Linked DNA regions of Homo sapiens: region 1 is linked to region 2. Evidence: fine-mapped expression QTL. Tissue or cell type: naive CD8 T cells. Region 2 holds a variant in brackets; the other region holds the start of a gene. All regions are shown on one strand. Distances are from middle to middle.

Region 1 (4,389 bases), 550 kb after region 2:
GCATCTGGATTTACCGCCAGCTGATTCCCTCTTGGGGCCTGAAATTCCTCCTGTATGGTCCTCTTTCAGGCTGTGTCTTCGCGATGTCATTTCCCACCAACTGTCATTGCATCCTGTACGACAGGCACTGTTGTGTGAAGGGGCCACACAGATCTATTCAAGATATAAAAACTGAAGGCCCAGATCGGCTTCTAAATAACCTGCTGAGATCAGTATGATTTTTCAGTTTCCCCTTTATTTCGGAACAAATCAGTGGGGATGTTTTTGAAACTCCTAACATCACCAATTTTATTTGGAAAAATTTGAAACCCACAGAAAAACTGCAAGAAGCACCACGGCCACGCCTATGTCCTTACCTAGATTTACTGCTCACCACTTAACCACTTGCTTTTCCTGTCTCATGCAGCCTCTGCTTATCTTGTGGGCACATGACCCATAAATCCTCTTCCAAGCTTGGACAAGATGAAGGGGTGGGATTTAGACAAACCTCCAATCCTTTGTGCCGTTTGTAATTGGACAGACCTGGCTTGTGGTCTCCTTCATCTCCACATATTGAAAAGGCATCGCCTTGTAGTAATAGCTGACGTTCAGCGGCAGCTACCTAGGTCACGTGTATTTTCTCATACCTCGAGCCTCACCTTGAGGTTCTGTGAGCTGAGGACTAATGATCCACGTTTACATTCACAGTTAGCAAGAGGCAGGCCCAGGAGATCTGGCCCCAAAGTCTCACTCCTGCCCACTCTGCCCTGTGTTCACACCTTGCCCTACCAGGCATGACCCGGGCCAGCAGGAGCCAAAGCACCTGGGAGCTTGTTAGAAAGGCAGGCTCTTGGGTCCCCCCTCAGATCTGGAGCAGAATCTGTTTATCTATCTATCTATCTATCTATCTATCTATCTTTGAGACAGAGTTTCGCTTTGTTGTCCAGGCTGGAGTGCAGTGGTGCCATCTCTGCTCACTGCAACCTCTCCCCATCCTAGGTTCAAGCGGTTGTCCTGCCTCAGCCTCCCGAGTAGCTGGGATTACAGGCATGTGCCACCAGGCCTGGCTAATTTTTATATTTTTAGTAGAGATGGGGTTTCACCATGTTGGCCAGGCTGGTCTTGAACTCCCAACCTCAGGAGATCCGCCTGCCCTGGCCTCCCAAAGTGCTGCGATTACAGGCATGAGCCACTGCGCCCAGCCTGGAATCTGCATTTTAATGAGACCCTCAGGTAGCTCATAGGCACCTTCGAGTTCCTCCTCTTTGCTCCTCCTTGCCGCTATCTCCCTTCTGTCCGTTTCCCTGGCCCTGTTCCTCTTAGATTTACTTATTCATAAGCCTCGACGTGACACTGAGCCAAAAAGCTCACCCCAGCTGACCAGCCTCAGGCTGCTAGTGGTATAATATTTTGTCTTTTTGGAAAAATTATCTCCTGAACTTGTAGCAGTGACGGGAGGTGGTACCCACAGGTGACCAAGTAAGCCCCAAGCATGCAGAACAGCATCCACTATACTTTCTAGCATGATGCTTCACACGGGTCTGGCTCATGGGAATGGTGTGAACTCTTGGCAGGCCCCAGGGAGGAAAGCATGGTTATGCTCACTTTCACCCAAGGGGGCAACTGGGACTTCAGGGCCTTCTGACTCCAAATCAGTGCCTTTCCCCTCCACCACATGGGCTTCCCCGTGCTGTCATCCAGAGAGTGAAGGAGGGCTGTGGGGCTCAGGAGGCGGGGGCTGAGAGAAGGAACAGAGGCCGCTGAGAGTGAGAAGCTGCGGTGATGCCTTGTTAGGGGGTAATGTCTTTAGGACAGATGTATCCAGAGCGCCAAAGCTTTCAGGGGACTTCAAATAGAAACTTATTTTACTTGTTCCTTACAAGAAAAATGGCCAAAGTTGGACAACATGTTCTGCCCTAAGCTTCCAAAGCTTGCTCTGCGGGAGCCTGCAGCCACCCACCCACAGTCCCTTCAGCGCGCTGCTCCCAGGACGTCCTCCGAGATAAATGTCCCCGATTCTGCACCCACCAGCCCCCTCGCCTCAGCCCTAGAACACTGGTACAATGGGTCAGAACTCTTAAAAACAGGCTGTTCTGCCCTGTGGCCCTGGAAGTCAGGGAGCCACAGAGGTTCTGTGAATTCCACCACCAGCAAACAAGGGGCAGCGTGGAGGAGTGGACACAATGTCTGAGGGGTGAGTGAGGGGCTGGAGTGGGGCTCCCAGGGCAGAGACAGCAAAGGGCAGAGCATCTCCTTAGTCCTGAGAGGCAGGGGCAGAGTGGCGGTTTGGGCACTGGGCCACCCCAGCTGCTGCTGCTGCCCTGGCAGCTTTCACTGTGGAAACTTCCCTCCGATGGTTAATTCCAGAACCAGGGCTCTGCTTGGGGAAGGGTCCCTCCTCCACATTCATCCCTCACCCCCACTTCCCATCCACCAGCCCAGATCACTGCAGCATCCGTGGGCTGCCCCACACCTGGAGGGCCCCACTGCCCCTGACTCCCAAAGACCCCTTCCTTACCAGAGCCCCAAGCCTGGGCTGGCTTTCCCCCAAACCCCCAAAGGTCATGCCCATTCTCTCTGCTAATCCTACAGCGGAGCCCAATCCCACACTCTCCCTAAGACCAGGTCGGTGTCCACTCATTGCCCTGCGGGCTCCTTACCTCATTGAAGTCCATTTAGGAGCCATGAGTGACATCACACCTTCTGGTACCCCGAGCCCACACTCCTCAAAAGGCCAGGCTGCTCCGTCTCCCCACTCCTCCGTGGCTCAGAGCACGCGGCGCCCGCCACCCTCTCCCCAGAGCTTACCAGCGCCTCTGGGAGTCCTCCCACGCGACCCTGCAGGAGCTGCTGGACCAAGAGCAGCTTCTGCTCGAACCTGCGCCCGACCGGGAGCGGCAGTCCTTCCAGTACAGGCTCGCATCGCTCTACCTGCACTACCTGGGGCTGCTGCGCCGCTTCGACACCGTCTATGACCAGATGGTGCAGCCGCAGAAGCGGCGGCTGCTGCGACGCCTGCTGGACGGCGTGGCGGGCCGCGTGCTGGAGCTCAAGGACGAGCTGGTGCGCGCCGACCTGTGTGAGAACCACTGCCTGGACCGCGTGCTGCAGGATTTCAAGCTCACCCCAGTACGTGTGCGCAGCCGCGAAGCCACGCCCCCAGCCAGCTAGCGGGAGGGGAGAGGTGGGGTGGGACCGGCCTTGACCACCTGGGACACAGAGCCACGCCCTGGCCAGCTTGGGGTCGGGTGGGGTAGGGATGGGGCCGACCACCCCTGCCTACCCGCCACCCCACGGATATCCCTGGTGTTGGGACAACTGCTAGGAAAGGAAGGAGGGCAGAGAAGATCAGAGGATGGGGTTTGGCCTTGTAGGAAGGGCTTCAGGAACCTTGGCGGTGGGGGGTGTGCATGGAGGTACTTAGAGGTTGGATGGAGTCAGGGTGAGGTCCCCTGCATGACTGGGAAGACCCACGAACCGCAGGGAATTGGTGAGGAGAGTCCTTTAGAGCCTCCTCAAAGTGTGGTCCCTGGACCAGCAGCATTGACATCACAAATGAGAAACTCTGAATCCCTAACTCACTAAATCTGCACCTGCATTTTTATCAAGACCCTCCAGTGATCTGTGTGCACGGGCAAGTTCTAGAAGGCTGTTCTAGAGCACAGAGCTTCTGCGGCGCCTCCAGTCCGGCTCAGGGTTCAGTAACTGCTTCATATCCAAGACTATCTCAAAGTTTCCCCAACCAGCTGCAGCAGTGCACTTGGTCGGGGGTGGGGGCGCAGGGAAGATTCCCCAGGTCCTGTCATTCTGATGTAGTAGTCTGAGGAGGACCTAGGAATCTGCATTTAAGAGCTTCCCAGTTGATTGTGATGCACAACCAGGTCTGAGACCACTGCCACCTACCATGAGCCTCCAGAATTCAACTCCAGCCAGAGGATGGGGGCAGAGGAAGAGAGGAGTGGCTCTTGGGGGTATCTGCCCCATTACCCTTTAAGTTTAGTCAGGACTCTAAAATGGAGGAAAACAGTGCTGGGGGTGTGTAAGCCCCTAAAAATGGTAACGGATCGGCCAGATGGCTCAGACTTTTGATTCCTGACCCTCCTCCCCCAACATTGCTCCAAAGGCTGACCTGGAGGTTCCAATCCCCAAATACTTCCTGCTGGAGCAGTCCACCACTGTGCGGGAGCGAGGGCTGATACTGGCCGAGATCCTGTCCAGACTGGAGCCAGTGTCCTCCCAGAAGGTAAACGGGGGTGACACCCTCCCAGACTCTTCCATACCCCATCTCCTGAAAGACTCCAGAATGCAGAGAGGCCCCTCCCTGCTCTCTACCAGAGTGCCCTTTAGGTAATCCCTGGCCTCCTTCAAGGCTGTTCTTCTGCTGATGGTAACCCTCCAACGCCAAGACAA
Region 2 (4,389 bases):
CGTTGTCCTTTCTCTTCAGTCTCTTCATCTGGAACAGCTCCTCAGTCCTGTCTCATCTGTCACGACCTGAGCACTTTTCAGGAGGACAACGGCCAGTTCTTGTGTCACCTGCCCTTCGACATTTCCTCACCATCAGAGCCAGCCTCCGCCCTCAGGTGGGCACCCACCCATCCGTGGGCTGCCCTGGGCTTCTGCATCCCAGCAGGGTCACCCGATGCGGCCGCGACACCTTTCCGGTGAAGTGGACGCCGGTCACTTGGTGAAGGGGGCGTCTGCCACCATAAAGTTCTCTACTTTAATAAAGGGCTTACTTTCCCCCTTGTCACCAGTCAGGGCTTCAGGGGGACCTACTTTGGGATTGTGTAAATGTCTTCTTTCTCATCAAACTTTCACTTGCTAGTTTTAGGATTGATATGTATTTCTTGCCTGAATTGTTACTATAGTAATTACCAAAAGGCGATTTTCTAAATTTATCATGAATTCTACATTGACTGGTTGGAATGCTACTTTAAAGAACAGGTTTTTCTTCTCTCCCTGTGTGTGTATGTATCTATGGACTCATGGATTTGTATCCTATTCAGTGCCATGTTATTTCTCATTATCAAATATTTTAAAAAATTTTTATTTTAGGTTTGGGGGTCCATGTGAATGTTTGTTACATAGATAAAGATGTGTCATGGGGGTCTGTTGTACATATTATTTCATCACCCACGTATTTCATCATGTATTAGGCTCAGTACCCAATAGTTATCTTTTCCGTTCCTCTCCCTCCTCCCACCCTCTGCCTCTTAAGTAGCCCCCAGTGTTTGTCGTTTCTTTCTTTGTGTTCGTAAGTTCTTATTATTTAGCCCCCACTCATAAGTGAGAACATGCAGCACTTGGTTTTCTGTTCCTGTGTTAGTTTGCTAAGGATGATCGCCTCCAGCTCCATCCATGTTCCCTCAAAAGACGTGATCTCTTTCTTTTTTATGGCTGTGTAATATTCCGCAGCACATATGTACTACATTTTCTTTATCTGGTCTGTCATTGATGGGCATTTAGGTTGATTCCATGTCTTCATTATCAAGTTTTTGATGCTCAAATTGTCCTAGACGTGGCCAGCAGGAGCCTCTCCAGGCGGATCACTGTGTCCTTTGACTTTCCCCATCATATCCCCACCCTGTCCCCATCATGCTGTGGGCACTTCCTGGCTTTCTGGCTGATCTTGTACATTCCTCACCCCAGCCCTGGAATTAGCCATTGCTCTAAAGAGCCCTTGTCACTTTTAGTGGCAAATAGTGTTTACGTGTGCATGTCACTCCTGGGGTGTCATTGCTTCTAGGCCTTCTCAGCAGATGTATTAGAGACAACCTAAACACCCACATAGAAGAGAGTAGTTGGCCAGGTGAGGTGGCTTACACATGTAATCCCAGCACTTTGGGAGTCTGAGGCAGGAGGATTGCTTGAGCTCAGGAGTTCAAGACCGTAGCGAGACCCTGTCTCTACCAAACAAACAAACAAACAAACAAACAAACAAAAATAGCTGGGCATGGAGACATGTGCCTGTCGTCCCAGGTACTTGGGAGTCTGAGGCAGGATGATCACTTGAGCCCAGGAGTTCACGGCTGCAGTGCGCTGTGATTGCACTGCACTCCAGTCTGGGCGACAAAGCGAGAACCTGTCTCAAAAAAATAAATAAATAAATAAATAATAAATAGAGTAGTTCAATGAAATAAAGAAGTTACAGCTACATAGCAGAGTACCATGTAGCTGTAAAAAAAATATGGCATCTTTGGGCCGGGCGTGGTGGCTTACTAAACCTGTAATCCCAGCACTTTGGGAGGCTGAGGCAGGCAGATCACGAGGTCAGGAGATCGAGACCATCCTGGCTAACACGGTGAAACCCCGTCTCTACTAAAAATAAGTAAATAAATAAATAAATAAAAATTAGCCTGGCATGGTGGCGGGCACCTGTAGTCCCAGCTACTTGGGAGGCTGAGGCAGGAGAATAGCATGAACCTGGGAGGCAGAGCTTGCAGTGAGCTGAGATCACACCACTACACTCCAGCCTGGGCGACAGAGTGAGACTCCGTCTCAAAAAAAAAAAAAAAAA[G/AAAG]GAATCTTTGAATCAGTATGGCAAAAGACATGCCTAGGCAATCCTCAAAAGACATGAAAATAGCCATTAGACAATAGCATGAGCATACTTAGTCATCATTAGAAATCCAGATTGTAGAATTAATCCATATTTTCCTTTAGTATTTGTAGGTTTAACTTTTTTTGTGGTAAAATGCATATAATATGTAATTTAGCACCTTAACAAATTTTTTTTTTTTTTGGAGACAGGGTCTTGCTCTGTCCCAGGCTGGAGTGTAGTGGTGCCATCTTGGCTCACTGCAACCTCTGCCTCCTGGGCCCAAGTGATCCTCCCACCTTAGCCTCCTTAGTAGCTGGGACGACAGGAACATACCACTGTGCCTGGCCACCTTAACAGTGTTAAAGTATATAACTCAGTAGTCACAGTGTTGTGCGACCATCACCCCAATCTAGTTCCAGAACTGTTTCATCACCCCAAATGGAAACCTCACATCCCTTAGCCCTCAATCTCCATTACCCCTTCCCACAGCTCTTAGCAGATGCTAAGCTGCCGTCTGCCTTTCTGGACTTGCCTATTCTGCATATCTCACAGAAACAGAACCCCATGACCTGCGGGCTTCTGCATGTGGCTTCTATCACTTAGCAGATTGTTTTGAAAGTCGATCTACTTTGTGGCATATATTGGAATTTCATTCCTTTTTATGCCTGAATAATATTCCATTGTAGAATAGACTCCATTCTGCTTACTCAGTCATCCACTGGTGGCCATTTGGGTTGTTTCCACCTTTTGTGAATAGAGCTGCCATCAACGTTCATGTACAAGTTGTTGGAACACCCGTTTGCAGTTCTCTTGGGTATATACCTAGGACTGCAGGTTCTGGGTCATATGGTCATTTTGTGTTTAACTTGTTGAGGAATGTTTTCCACAGTGCAGTGTTTTACATTCCCATCAGCAATGTATGAAGGTTCCAGTTTCTCCATATCCTTGCCAACGGTTCAGTTCTTTTTTTTTTTTTTTTTTTTTGAGATGGAGTCTTGCTGTGTCACCCAAGCTGGAATGCAGTGGCACCATCTCGGCTCACTACAACCTCTGCTTCCCAGGTTCAAGCAATTCTCCTGCCTCAGCCTCCCGAGTAGCTGGGGCTATGAGCATGTGCCACCATGCCCAGCTAATTTTTATATGTTTAGTGGAGATGGGATTTCACCATGTTGGCCAGGCTGGTCTCAAACTCCTGACCTCACGTGATCTGCCCACCTCGGCCTCCCAAAGTGCTGAGATGACAGGCATGAGCCACCATGCCCGACCCAGTTCTTTTCCTTTTTTTTTTTTTTTTCAGTGTGGTTGTCCTAGAGGATGTGAAGTGGTCTACCATTGCTGTTTTGATTTGCAGTTCCCTAGTAAAGTTTAGCATCTTTTCTTGTACCTTTTGGCCACCTGTGTGTCTTCTTTGGGGAAATATTTAATCAAGGCAGCTGCTCATTTTTTTGATTGGATTGTCTTTTTGTTGTAGAGTTGTAGTTCTTTATGTATTCTGGATACTAGACACTTATCAGATATATGACTTGCAAATATTTTCTCCTTTCCTGTGAGCTGCCTTTTCACTCTCTTATTATTGTCCTCTGATGCACAAAAATGTTTCATAACAGCAGAGTTTTGATGACCAACGTCACCTTCATATGCTGCTTCTCTGTACCTGGCCCATGTAGACACTGAACGCTTACTGAAATGGAGGAAGCAGAGAGAGTGAGGGAGGTGGATACCGGGGACTACAGTTCACTGATTCAAAGAAATGGGGCATCAGGATAGGCTGATGGACGGGGGACTGTCTCATTGCCCCTCCAGGTGTCTGCTTGCTACAATGTGAAAGGCTGACTCAGGGTCTAACTATCCCTTTAAAGCTTCTAGTGAGGAGAGAGAAAAGATGGCAAATTCTCCGTAGCCTCCTTTTCTGAGTTTGATCTTTGGATGGATGGTTAATCCAGTTCTCTTGCTTAACCGCATCTCTTCTGCTTTGCAGTGAGCACAGTTTCTTTTGAGCATCTCCTCTCTGGAGACATCTGGCCCGTGGGCCTCTATGAGGAAAACCGTCAGCCTCTTCCTCACCCTCGGAGGCTCCAAAACACCCAGGCCAGCCCCATGTTGCCTAAAGCCCAGAAAACTGTGTTTTAAAATTTTGGCGAATGATTAGCAAATACTCTCACTGTCGTCACTGGGGGCAGGTTGGGTGAAAGTGCCCAGCTCATCTCTCTGGCTGCGGGCGCGGCGGGGCGAAGGCCAGGTGGCACGGCACGGATGTTCTTTCCTCCTTGCCGCTGCTG

Evidence for each region. PIP is the estimated chance that this variant, and not a neighbour inherited with it, causes the effect.
Region 1: DRC11L starts here. The variant in region 2 is the best candidate, but not a certain one, in a credible set for the expression of DRC11L in naive CD8 T cells (Schmiedel 2018, PIP 0.75).

Annotation. Positions count from the first base shown.
Region 1 is chr7:151,203,228-151,207,616 of GRCh38, reverse strand. DRC11L (dynein regulatory complex subunit 11 like) reads left to right here and starts at 2,121. Exons shown (of 19, transcript NM_001304419.2): 1 at 2,121-2,173; 2 at 2,781-3,108; 3 at 4,103-4,222. The coding sequence starts at 2,163.
Region 2 is chr7:151,748,802-151,753,190 of GRCh38, reverse strand. The region is part of intron 3 of PRKAG2 (protein kinase AMP-activated non-catalytic subunit gamma 2); the gene reads left to right. Among named protein-coding and RNA genes, the nearest start is that of PRKAG2-AS2, 55 kb to the left of the region's middle. RefSeq lists enhancers at 1-244, 1-648. The variant G/AAAG (reference allele first, on the strand shown) is at 2,093.